Linked DNA regions of Homo sapiens. The protein of the gene in region 2 interacts with the protein of the main gene of each other region in a pairwise test. Each region holds a gene or a part of one and is shown on either strand. Other genes may lie near its edges.

Region 1 (7,000 bases), on a different chromosome or scaffold from region 2:
CAAGTGTGGAAACAGTTGTTTCATATTTTGTACACTGCCCATATGGTTCAAAATCGTATCCTTAGACACAAATCGCCTGGCGCTTGCACTGAATTTTTGAAAATGCAAGATTTCTGAATGATAAATTAACCCCCCCAATTTTTTTTTTTTTTTTTTTAAAAAAGCTAATTTTGCAGACAGGTTTACATGTAAAAGGCTAGGTATTTAGCCACCTCAGCATTGATTAGTTTTGGATGTCTAAGCTCTGTTACACATGGCTTCCCATGGCTTCACTCTACAAAACATATTTACAACGTGAAGGATACATCTACAAGAAATCTACATTTCAAGGGTTTTACAAATCAATCTTGTATCTTTCCCCTGAATTGACTCTCACAGACCCCGTCCCCTTGTCATTTCCTTTGCCCAGCTTAACGGTCCAAAGTCTACTTAAATGCAGCTCAAAAATGTTAAGATTGGGCAACAGATTTACAGTTCCTGTTCTCAAAACCATGTGCAATTATTCACATCTTCACACCATGAAGGAATTCTGATTTTTTAGCTTTTCAAGTTCCTTAATTTGTTGTCTCAAAAATAGTATCCTGAAAAAAAAAAGCAGACATTAGAACCTGTGTACATATACAAATATTACAGAAAACCCGAGCTTTTATAATTAAAATTTTTTAAATTAAAACAAGTGATTTCTAATTAAGGCAAAGAAATTTAAAAAATTATTTAACTATAAATTGGTTTACAGTTAAGACAAAGTAAACATTTAATACATAATATCTATTAAAGTATAAGGATGATGAAAGGATGTTTTAGTTTTCAAACAACTTTTTATTTTATTTTATTTTTTGAGACAGAGTCTTGCTCTGTTGCCCAGGCTAGAGGGCAGGGGTGCAATCTTGACTCACTGCAATCTCCGCCTCCCGGGTTCAAGCAATTCTCCCTGCCTCAGCCTCCTGAGTAGCTGGGATTACAGGCACCTGTCCTTACGCCCGGCTAATTTTTATATTTTTAGTAGAGACAGGGTTTTGCCATGTTGGCCAGGCTGGTCTTGAACTCCTGACCTCAGGTGATCCGCCCACCTTGGCCTCCCAAAGTGCTGGGATTACAGGCGTTAGCCACCGCGCCCAGCCTTTTCTAACAATTTCTTAATAATTCCTTTGGCTCTAACAACTTAAAATGTATTACTTTATAAACCGTATCATCACAATAAAGAAAGCAGTAGCTATTATACATGAAATAAACCTATACTGCATGTTTTCTGGCCCACTATACAGTAAAGAGTAGAATTAACCAGGTGTAAGAGATTAATCATTTAGAAGAGCAATTCTCAATGTAGATGTAGGTACATAAAAATGAAGCCAAAAACCAAAAGTTGAAACACACAAACCCCAGTTACCCAGATTCCCATGAACGTAAAAATATTTCCTGTTTTTACTCTTCTCTTCTGGGAACTATAATATTTATTGCCTGTACACATGAATTAGGCATAATCAGGCTGGCTTGATATTTGACTGTATATACTGTTTTCCTAAGATGCAATAATGAATAATTTCCCAAAAGTCGAATGATGTAACAAGCCAAAATGAAGTTTGTTAGAACTACTTTCAGAGCAATCTGACTATAAGAACCCAAGTTGTTACTCAGAGAGTACCTCCAGATATTTTAGTAACTGTAAATAAACTTACTTTTTCAAGTTGTACTATAAACTCCATTTGGTATTTACTAAATATTTATGGTTTCTTGACAAGATTCAATCGACCTGTAACTCTGTGACTTGCACAGACAGGACATAAAGCCATTGCCAAGTTTGTCCTCAATTCTGTAATAGGCATTAAAAAATAATACCTATGCTATTATTATTGTGACCTAGATATTCTACTTGAGTGAAACACTAGATTAAGAAATACAAGACAAGAGTTCAGGTGAAAAATACTAAGACAGCAGATACACTAAACTTGCTAGACAAATTCTTTCTATACTTTTCAAGGGATCTATTGATGATGCAAGGACAAATAATCTGAAATTTCAATGGAAACACCCTCAGCAAGAGAGGACATTTATAATTAGTTGTGGTCAATATTTCATTTTTTCAGTAATATATTATTGCAGCTTATGGAGTTATGAGAAAAGTCTAATGAAGCATTCATCATGGGTTAAGAGAAAATCGACAGGCTTTATCCTTCACGAGAAATATTAACTTATGAAAATGCAGTGATAGAATGTGATCAATGTATCGAAGAGAACTTTACATTTCATAAATAAAATGTGATTTACATTCTTTAGTTCGATTTAAGAATCATAATCCTGAGAAACATAAAAATATATTTCAGTGAAAGACTTACCTTTGCTCTCGCAAAGTTGCTTGAATTTCACATACTCGGACTAAAGATCTTAAATTTTTTAATTCAGTACAAATTTCGGACATGTGAATAGTTCCCATGTTATGCGCTTCTTCGCGTAATCTTGATGCCTGTAATTAAAGAAATGAAGAAAACATAAAATATAAACATTAACATACACAAAATAAAACATTAAATTTCTGAGTACAATTTTATACTAGGATTAGAGAATAATCCTTTTCCCTTCAATACACAAAAATGCTGGTGAACCTAATGGGGAAAATTAATTTGTTTTAAGAAACTGTCTCTAAGGGTGGAAGGTACTTATTTTAATATTTCTCTTCTAAGTTGGAGAAAATAGGATTTCCAACCTGAAGCTAATACAGCACTAAGAAAGGACTCATAATTTGTGGTTAATAAAAGATGCTGGGTCAGCCAAAGAGATTGTCATTTCTGCAAGTTCAGGTATTAGATATTGATTCAAGAGCCTCACTATACTCCTCTATCGTAAGACACACAACATATTCTCTGTAAACTTTCGAACACCCCAGATGGTCAGTTATCTGATAAAAAGCAAGAGGCAAATGGCAGTAACTGGAATGTCCTAAGGTCTCTCATCCCAAAGCAAAAATGTTTCCTAACTTCCAGTTGCTAGTCTAGTGAGAGAGTCATAGAAAATTAAGTGGGGTTTTTTTTTGTTTTTTTGAGACAGAGTCTCACTGTGTCACCCAGGCTGGAGTACAGTGGTGCAATCTCGGCTCACTGCAACTTCTGCCTCCTGGGTTCACGTAATTCTGGTGCCTCAGGCTCCCGAGTAGCTGTAATTACAGGTGCATGCCACCATGCCTGGCTAATTTTTATACTTGTGGTTAGAGATGGGGTTTCACCATGTTGGTCAGACTGGTCTCGAACTCCTGGCTGGCCTCAAGTGATCCACCTGCCTTGGCCTCCCAAAGTGTTGGGATTACAGGTATGAGCCACTGCGCTTGGCCAGTAGATTAACAGTGCTAATGGAATCTGAAACTATCAGAGAAGCTGAGTGGAAAAAGTACACTGGCTTTGAGCCACATCACTGTTAACTGGGTGACCCTGGGATCAAGGTCTTATGCACTATTTGGTCTTAAGGACTTCAACTCTATCTACACTGCTTAGCTGTTTTAAGAAGTAGAGAAAATAAATATAAGGCATTAAGCACTGAGCTAACTGCTGAGTACTTGACAACAGTGCCTATAATTATGTTAAAATATTTTGTAAAACCAGAAAAGTTATCTTATATATCAAATATTTTTTAAATGACTACAAAGTTAGAGATTCATTATTTTAAATATTGCTTGAATTCAGTGGTCACATTAGATTCTCTAGAAGTTGATTAAATTCTGTTTTGCTAATCATCCAAAGGTAAAATCTAGGCTGTACATAACATACCTGCTTCTCTGCATGATCTGCAGGCCATCCTTGAACGTGTTTTATGAGATTTTCACTGAAGTGTGCTGCTAGTGCAGGCGTTAATGAACACGTGGATCGGGCAGAAGAATTCTGTGGTACAACTGTTGCATTTGATGCATTACTACTATTAGAAGTATGATTGGGACCAGGTGATGGACTTCTCTGGCTACTAGAAAACAGAATTGAATGTGTAGTATGTTTAAAAGTAGTTTCTGGGTATCCTTATCCTAGAAACTGCATGTTAATACCTTTTATTAACTTAAAGATATCCAAATTCCTAAGAAAAATTTGTTATTTTAATGTCAAATAAAGAGAATTAATAATCCAAAGTATATGATTCCTCAAAACACTTTAGGGGGAAAAAACCCTTTTAACACTACTGTCAGAGTCAAATGTAAACTACTCTCCAAATCTGAGAGCAGAACCTGTTAACTTTGTGTACCACAAACACTAATAATATAACTAAAAAAAGTCACATTTTAACAGCTGTAGATGCACATCTGAAGACTGCTCATACACATCTAGATAAGGGGAAAATATATATTGCCTTTGTTCAACGTCAGAACTGCTGAATCAGAGGGTGAAATAATGTGAAGCAAAATACAGACATTTTATTGGATAGCACTGAACAAGCACAGTGGCAAAACAAAACCAAAAAAATAACACTCTGAGATTCTTTATCTTCTTTTAAAACTGAATGGTTTGGGCCAGGGTTGGGGATATGGTGGTGAGAACCAAAAAATTTAATCACCCAAGTTGATCTCCTACCTGCTTCACCAGACTTGGCTCTGAATGAATTTCAGTTATTTCCAAAAACTAAATCTCCCAAAGGATGAAGAGTTTTCATCACTGAGGATATTTAAAATAATACTGCAGCCTCTAAAAACAATTTAAAAGAAGAATTTCCCAAAAATGTTCAGAGCAATGGCAACATTGCTGGAGTAAGTAGACAGCTTCCCAAGGTCATTATTTTGAAGGGAACAACTCTCATTTGGAGGTGTAAGTTCTGAAATGCTTGTTTAGAAAACAACAATAAAAACAACAGTTGAATTATTTTGCTACCTCATAGCATGAAATAAAAAACAGGAAAATCAATCAAATGAAAACCATTCATTCAACAAATGTCATTTAAAGTTGTGTTGTTAATGAACAAAGAAAAGTGCTAACACAATACAGCAGTATAGAACTATCTAAAAAGCCATCCGTATAGGGTCACAGTTAAGCTATTGGGAAAGCCTGACATATACCAGTTGGGAAACATTGGCCCAAGTTTTAGATACCAGACTTTGGCTTTCATCAATATACTCAAACCAAAACTGCTATGAGGAGGTTAAAAAGTAAGGTAATTCCAACAAATATTGTAAAATCGTGTGCCTTTCTGGTACAAGTATCACAAATCTTTAGCCCCGTCATATTCCACTGTGTAAAATTTTAAAGAGCCACTTTCTTCAAAATAACCCGGGCTTCACTACTAGAGACAATAACCTACCTCTTGTATACAGGTTTGTCTTTGTAAATTTTACAACATGTAAGCCTACTTTAGGGTATTCATGGAGTTTAAAGGTTAAGTTCTATTTTACAGATATAATATTCAAACAATGCAGTGTACCATCATTAAATAAAACAATGTGGTCTCAATATACAATATCAACCTACCTTGAGCGCTGAAGACTTCGAGGAGAGACAGGTTCATGACCTTGCTGCTTGTCAGCAGTTACAGGCTGCTGTGTGGCTGACTGTGACACTGGTCCTTGCTTAACTACTGGAGTACTAACCTGAAATGTCAAAATCTGGTGAGATGGTCTCCAAATCTAATCCACATCTCTCCCCCCAAAATCTAGGTAATCGTCTTGAAACATGTAAAATGTGGCAGTCAAGTTCTGAAACTTAGATCTCATTTCTTTGTGAAAATGGCCCAAGGTCATAAAATTACTTCCCTATCAAACTAGGGCTGGGCGCGGTGGCTCACGCCTGTAATCCCAGCACTTTGGGAGGCCGAGGCGGGCGGATCACGAGGTCAGGAGATCGAGACCACGGTGAAACCCCGTCTCTACTAAAAATACAAAAAATTAGCCGGGCGCAGTGGCGGGCGCCTGTAGTCCCAGCTACTCGGGAGGCTGAGGCAGGAGAATGGCGTGAACCCGGAAGGCGGAGCTTGCAGTGAGCGGAGATCGCGCCACAGCACTCCCGCCTGGGCGACAGAACGAGACTCCGTCTCAAAAAAAAAAAAAGTAACTAGTTCTCCTTTACAGCTCAGTTTTCTTTCCAATACATTATTATCTCTTCTGATTTACTGTTACTTTTATATCAATAAAAGTAAATTATGTATGCTACCACATCATACACATATGGATGCTTAGATTTTAATGATATGGAGAAATATGTGATTGGGCTATCAGAAAATGAGTTATGGCCCATATAAAGTTCAACATGAGAGTTTTTCAAAGAGATGTTACTCTACAGAGGTAGACTGAAGTCCATGATTGCCAATCAGGATATGTATTATATTCAGAAGCCACATAGAGAAAAGCAGTTTAAAATATAAGCTCTAAATTGAGGCACAAAGGCAGATGGAGTCCTTTGTGATTAAGTCACACCTCACTGCTGTTTTTCTTTTGGTGGGGTGAGGGGATATGATTAATAATTCTCCCTAACAAATCTGGAATGTCCTGCTTAACTTCTGAATATTACCTATCAATTCTAGTCAAGTCTTATAAAGAACATTTTATAAGCACTACATAAAAGCTCAAATGTTCAATTATTTTAAAAACAACTTGAAGAAGTTTTTGGAACACAAAAAACGAACAGCTACCTGCTTAAAGGATTTTTTTTTTCCAGACAGGGTCTTAGTCTGGTTGCCTACTCTCAAGTGCAGAGTGACGTGATCTTGGCTCACTCCAACCTTGAATTCCCAGGCGCAGGTGATTCTCCTACCTCAGCCTCCTGAGTAGTGCACATCACCATGCCCAAGAAAGTTTTTCAGAGTTTCACTCTCTTGCCCAGGCTGGAGTGCAGTGCCGTGATCTTGGCTCAACTGCACCTCCACTTCCCAGGTCAAGTGATTCTCATGCCTCAGCCGCCCGAGTAGCTGGGATTATAGGTCTGTGCCAGCACACCCAGATAATTTTTGTACTTTTAGTAGAGACCGGGTTTTGCCTGTTGGCCAGGCTTGTTTCAAACTCTAGGCCTCAAGTGATCTGCCTGCCTCGGCCTCCCCCAGCAAA
Region 2 (7,113 bases):
TAAAGGTGCTGGTTGTGATACTGGTTTATATCATTCATGTTGAATGTATTTCATAAGAAAAGAAAAGTGAGGTGGAAAAGAGATTTCTCTCACCCTAAAACGTAACTGTGTTTGGGCTGTAGCCTCTAGAGCTGGCTCTGACTAAAACTGACTATTTGTAAGACTAAAATATCAAAGGGAGTTATTGAATTTTCTCTTTTTGAGTTTTGGTGCATGTATATTGTCTTCATCATAGTTATTTCTCACTAAGAGCAGGAATGGTGCTCCGGGAAACTCTTAGGCATTCCATGCCTTTATACCCTGTGAAAAGATATGCTTTGTAAGGGAGTGTTTAAAGTTTTAAATTTATTTCTTCATTTGTTTCAACAAATACAAATGAAAGACCTATCTGGAAGGAATCCAATGGGGGCAAAAATGTTTAAATGAATAAAAATATACAATAATGTAAAGGCCCAAATTAGTCAGCAAATGAAATATATGTTTGTAGATGATCTTTGTAAATTTTGAAATGGAACTCATGATTTATCTATTTTTTTTTCTCTTTCTCCACCATTCCCTCATTTTGGTGGCTGACACAGGAAATAAGACTTTTAAAAAGGGAAAGAAGAAGGAGTCACCTGTAATCTCTGGAGGAATACTAGAAGTGTTCATCAAAGAGGCAAAGAATTTGACAGCAGTGAAGTCAGGAGGCACTTCTGATAGCTTTGTGAAGGGGTAACTTTGTTTTAGCTCTTTTTGGATGATACTTAATAGGAGATGAAAGGATCTGTGATCCACAAGCCACTGGTGGCTGTGAGCCTTCCGTGTTCTGTTTACTAGAAGTGTATGGGTGAGAACTACCCTTACATGCTGGCTCTTACATCTAAAATAACACAAGTGTTGAGGGAACTGCTGATTCTAGCTGTCACTCTGTTTCCAACATATTTCAGGAATTCCCATCACTCTTACTCTCAAGACAGTCAACTTTTTTCTGTAAGATTCATTTATCGAAAGTGGACAAAAGTATGATTTCCTATGTATAATGTATTTATATTGTTCTTTATTATCATTTTGTCCTGGCAATATGCAACAATCACCAAAATATCAGATCCTTGATATTTTTCTCTCTTGGGGGAAATTGTAAAAAGTAGAGATGTCAGAGCATCCTTGCTGGACTTATTCACTGTCGAGTGCTTTGGAGAGGCTCCAAGACCACCTGCTAGGCATTTGTGCCCAAGTTGTGGAGCAAAGGGCAGCTTCCTGAGGGAATGCAGCCTTAAAATGGATACTTTTGCCTAACTCTAGGCAACTCAAACATCAAATCCCTTTTGATTCCTGACTACTGGATATTTTTCTCTTGGAAATTGAGAAACTAAGACTGCAAGGTTATTTTTCAGTCATTCAAACAAACACAAAATGCACATGTGCCAAGCACCAGGTGCTATGCTTTCAAAAATAAATAACATATTATCCCTGCCCTCATGGAACTCCGTAAAGCACATAAGGTAAAACAAATTCCCATGATGCCAGACCATGAGGTTCATTCTTTGAGTCGGATGGCAATATTGTTCCTCTTCACATGCTGTATTGGAAAAGAGTATTTTTTCCTACAAGGAAATGGGTTGAGCTCACTCTCACATGTTATTTGTTGTTGTTGTTTGTTTTTGTTTTTGTTTTGAGACAGAGTTTCACTCTGTTGCCCAGGCTGGAGTGCAGTGGTGCCATCTCGGCTCACTGCAACCTCCGCTTCCCAGGTTCAAGTGATTCTCATATCTCAGTCTCCTGAGTAGCTGGGATTACAGGTATTTTTATTTTTATTTTTATTTTTAGTAGAGACAGGGTTTCACCACATTGGCCAGGCTGGTCTTGAACTCCTGACCTCAAGTGATCTGCCTGCCTCGGCCTCCCAAAGTGCTGGGATTACAGGCATGAGCCACCGTGCCTGGCCACATGTTCTAACTTTGGTAAAGCTAGTAGTGGGGAGAAGCAGTTCTGGGGCCTCCCCATTGGTGAGTGTGTATGCCTGAATCCTGGCACATCTTCCCTTCACTCTTCCTTGCAGTAGATTTAAGCATAGAAGAAATGCTTTCTTTGGATACTGCAGTTACAATTTGTGTCATTAGCCCTACCATCCAGTTTAAGCTTCTGCTGCTGGAATGAGGAGATGACTCCCAACCCGTGGCCACATTGTGACCTTGCAACGGTACTTGACATCTTCTGGAGCAGTATTCACTTTATCTTGTGGAAAATGTATAAAGCAGAAATAATAAAAGACAGTATTTTTGTTCTAGAAAGAAAAACAAAAGCCAATAACTTTCCGGTAAATTCTGTCTATAATAATACTTAAATATTAGGCTGATTCTAAAAAGACATGAGATTTTTTTAAAAGACAGTGAGGGAGCAAGAATAGACCCTCTGTAAAGTTTAATAATATAAAATATATCCATTAACATTAGGTCGGTCTGTGAGCCAAAAGAACAGTGGCTTAAACAAGACAAGTTTTTTTTCTCTCTTACATGTAAACAAAGACTGAAGGTAAGGTCCCCAGTGCAGGTATGGAAGCATCATGATTATCAGGGACCCAGGATTTTTCCATCTCGTTATGGTATCCACCTAATGGGTTAGGATAGCTGCTCCTGTTTCAGCTATCCCACACAAATTCCAGCTGACAGGACACTTTCCAGATGTAAGAAGTAGTTTTATCAGCACTACTTCTTATATCCCATTGGCCAGAACTCAGTCACATGGCTATTCCAGCTGCAAGGGAGGTTGGGAAATGTAGTCTTTATTCTGGGCAACACTGTGCTCAAATAAAAACACAGTTTTTTAGAGGAATATAAGGAGAGAATGGATATTAGGAGATAATAAGCAGTCTTTGCTTGGTACATGAAATTAAATCTTAAGTGACTTAATGTATCTTCTTTATTGTAAAGTCATTTGCTTGTAGCACTTTTCGTTTTTGTTCCATGTACTAATTCCATATGTACATATGTCTTCTTTTCTAAAGTATGCTCCCTGAAGGGGGAAAACAGCCATTTTTATCACATACCTAGAGCCTCATACAGTGTTTTGACCATAGTCGAGAAAACCTAGGATACAGGCGTTTTATTTGAAGACAAATTTCAGGAAACACCAGTGAGGAAGTGGAGAAAATGAAACAAGGAAGAAAGAGAAGTTGATTAAAACATATGTTAATGGGCAGGTTACCACTGTGGGCAACTGGAGCATGATTCCACTAGGGAAGCAGTGAGGAACTCTGTGGAATATACCTTAGGATTGTCACTTTGAGGGACAGGGAAGATGGGGAAATTATCCACCAATTTCTCAAACTCATCAGTTAAAAGTTGCCCCAGGGGTATTAAATTCCAAGTAATCCCAGAGTTTCCTACACATAAGCTGAGCCAGCTAACACAATATCAGATAAATTCCTTAATTAGAGGAATTTATTCCTTGTATCAAGAGACACAAGCACTTGAGGTGGGAAGCTGAAAGTATATCAGGAACTTCCCATCCTGGCTGCAAGTCAGCTCCAAGGAGGCCAAAAAGATTTGAAGCAAGGCATTCAATAGTGTCTATTACAGGAGGTATTTTCTTTTCAAGATGGAAGGAAGGACCTAAATAAGATTAGAAAGGAGAGTGAGGGCATTTTACTAATGTCCCACTGGGAAGAAATAATAAGTCAGTTCACTATATAAATCCAGATTTAAGCATATAGAAGCCTGGGAAGGAAAATCAAATAGACACATCACACTTGTGTACACGCTGACATTTTCTGTCTGCTGTCTTATTGATGATTTGATTGTTTTTTCTCATGCAGCTACCTGCTCCCTGATGATAGCAAAGCCACCAAGCACAAAACTCTGGTAATAAAAAAGAGTGTTAACCCTCAGTGGAATCATACATTCATGTTCAGTGGCATCCATCCCCAGGATATAAAGAATGTTTGCCTAGAACTTACTATCTGGGACAAGGAGGCCTTTTCCAGCAACATCTTTCTGGGAGGAGTTCGTTTGAATTCTGGAAGTGGTGAGGGATTTGGGGACCCACAGGGATGGTCTGTGACTAGGCCCAGGTGGGGGCGCTATTCTTGCAGATGTGATGTGCAGTGGATGTATATATATAGTTTCAGCTAAATCCTGAAATTACCACAAATACTTCATTCCTTTAGCTAAGGATCTATTCATTGTTAAAATACAAATATAACTACAGTAACTTTGTATCCTTAGGCTAGAAGATTGGAAGATATCATATTTATATTCAATCCTTTCATAGACTAGCATTTACACCTTAGTCTAAGTGAATTGTAAGTACTTTCTTGGGCCTTGCTTCATATTTTGCTCAGGGGATGATTACCAAGACAGCATAGGCTTCTGATGGGAGGAGAGCGACTTTCAAGACCAACATTACTTCATCATCTTCTCAGTTCTGTCCAGCACTTGCAGCTATTATTCATACTGGTTGAATTGAAAGGAAATCATTTTTTCATAAAAATAACACCAGTATTGTTAAAAACAGATCAAGGAAACCCACCACTGGTGCCACAAGACGCAACTGTAACAGGGTGAATTGGAAGAGGGATTACAGTAGTAGAGCACGTGCATTCCCCTAACTCTCATTATCCCATAGCCTAAGCCAGACATAGATGAGACCATCAGCATACACCATGGTAAACATTTCTGTTGAGGAAGGTCCTATCACTATGATAATTACTTATTTATAGATTAAGGGGAGCCAAAAATATCTATACCACTAAAAGGAAAACTCCCCAGGTCAGAAAAGTGCCCTTGTTAGAAAAAGAGAGCCAAATTCATCCCATTCTTCTGTCATGTTAGCACAGTCCAGATGAACCAGCTCTCTGCTAAAGTAGGGAGGAAGTGAGTCACCAGGGCCACCCCGATTTGCCTCATATGGCCTAGGCATTAGAGAATAGTGCAGGCTGAAATGATTGATTGATTCAATTCTAACACCACTCACTATATATACTAAGTGAGAACAAGCCAGTAAAAGGTACTCTGGTGAAAAGGCCTGCTCAGAAGTTGATAGATACCTTGCAGGAGAGCAAAGCATTTCATGTGTGACATAAAATTTTCCCGTTTCGCCTCTTCAGGTGTGAGCCATGGGAAGAACGTGGATTGGATGGACTCTCAGGGGGAAGAGCAGCGCCTTTGGCAGAAGATGGCCAACAACCCTGGAACTCCCTTTGAGGGTGTACTCATGCTTCGTTCCAGCATGGGAAAATGTAGGCTCTAAAGGGACCAGTTCTCCAAGAATGAGGCCACCAGGACCTATCTGGCTGTCTTTTCCTACCATTAGCAAACTGAGACCTGGGATTCTGCTTCCCTGCCATTTCTCACCTGACAGTGTTGGGACATGAGGGGAGAGATGTCAGTAGTATGAACATTTAGGGTCTTGCTGAGTGCCTAAAAAACATATATTTCCATCCAATCAAGGCCTTCTTGATTGGATGATAGAAAGTGTACTACTTGTCCTGTCAACAAGCAAATTGTGCAAAGGCTTATAGGGTTTATGCCATAAAAGAAATGGCACAAGCCTCCATTTGCTAATTATAAGTTACTTTAGATTTCCTCAAATCCTTTGAAGAGAAAGAGGACCACTGAGAAGGTAGATCACTTGAAAAGTCAGAAGAAAGGATACTGGCCAACTTTTACTCACCCTAGGAATCCACATGATCTCAAGAAGGCATGGTGGAGATGGTTGCTTGAGCAAGGGGATTGTCCTGTTATTGCAGCAAACTTGTGGATTAACCAAGTAGTATTTCAAGATGGATTGACAGGGCTTTCTATGATTACTATAGAATTTATCATCTAAATCAGTTTACTTTTTAGAACAAAGAGAGCTAAATAACTACATCAGAACGATTGATGTTGATTAGAATTGACCTGGGAAAATTGGGATGTAGGGTCACCCTACTGATGACCTAAGAGAGCTCTGTTTTAAACATTTATTTTATAAAATGTTCTAAGCCATTAACTAAAAGGAAATGAGATATAATGGTCAATTGATATACCTTTTCACATTGTGTTCACTGACGAGACTAGTTTAATGAAAAAGGAGGTACTCTACCTGCTATTTTACTTCTGTTCCTCTTCTGCCCTGTTATGGGAGAGAATCAAAGACTCCATCTGCTCTCTTCCCCCTTGTTTTCTCCTTCACTGAGTTTTTCTTATCTCCTTTTGCAGTGGTTAACTATTGTCACAATAATGCTGAATGAAAAAACACACCAAATGTCAGTGGCTTAAAATGACCATCCTTTTTCTCACAGTTATGAAGATTGGCTATGGCACCTCTGCTTCCTGCTATAGGCCTGAGGTTCTAGGGCTTCTTATGCCTCATCCTCTTTAAGCCAAAGGGATAGCCAGAGCATCTTGATGGCAGAAGTGCAATAAGATGAGCCCCACTGCTCGGGTACATTTTCAGCCCCTGGTTGTGTCATGTCTACTGATATCTCATTGGTCAAAGGAAGTCAGAGGGCCAAGATGAAGAGGCAGGGAAATATGCACTGCCCACAGTGAAGCCATGACAAGAGTGAGGATGCAGGAAGGCATGAAGAATTGGGGCCAACAGTTCAATCTACCATACCTTCTCTCACCTGGAATTCCAGATGCTTGAGCTACGAAACTTAGATGCAAAGAAAGTTAAAGCTAGAAGGAACCTCAGGCCCAGTTGCTCATTTTGCAGATTCCAAATGTGAATTTCAGAGAGCTGAGATAACTTGCCCAAGGCCATATAGAGGCTGTGACTAAATCTGGACTTAAATCCAGACTATCAATCTTAGGCCAGTGTTCTTTTTTCAATATAGTCCTTGGCATAATGCTATGCTTATTAGGTAGATAAAAGGGCTTATGTCAAGAAATTTGGAGCAGAGTCTGATTACTTGAGCATGAACATACCCGACCAAGGTATGTTCTGGAGTCATATTCTAGCCTCTGAGCTCATTTTTTCATGCGAGTTCATATAAAATCCTCGAAAGTTTAGAAACTAGGTTTTAGTAGTAACGGAGCTAGAATCATCTTCGGGCTTATTCCTGCTAGTTGTTCCATATTTCTAGATTTCATCTTGAATTTTGAAAACTGATTTAAGAATATATTTAGTATTATTATTAGTAAGGGAATA

The links. The genes of interacting proteins can lie anywhere in the genome.
Region 1: the proteins of SYTL5 (region 2) and WAC interact in binary tests that used the Homo sapiens proteins (3 or more experiments, as listed by UniProt).

What each region holds. Positions count from the first base shown.
Region 1 is NC_000010.11:28,613,118-28,620,117, reverse strand, and holds part of WAC (WW domain-containing adapter protein with coiled-coil), read right to left. Parts: intron 5,552-7,000; coding exon 5,433-5,551; intron 3,946-5,432; coding exon 3,756-3,945; intron 2,462-3,755; coding exon 2,334-2,461; intron 582-2,333; coding exon 512-581; 3' UTR 1-511.
Region 2 is NC_000023.11:38,121,502-38,128,614, forward strand, and holds part of SYTL5 (synaptotagmin-like protein 5), read left to right. Parts: intron 1-578; coding exon 579-714; intron 715-3,796; coding exon 3,797-4,005; intron 4,006-5,086; coding exon 5,087-5,229; 3' UTR 5,230-7,113. UniProt on the Homo sapiens protein: May act as Rab effector protein and play a role in vesicle trafficking. Binds phospholipids.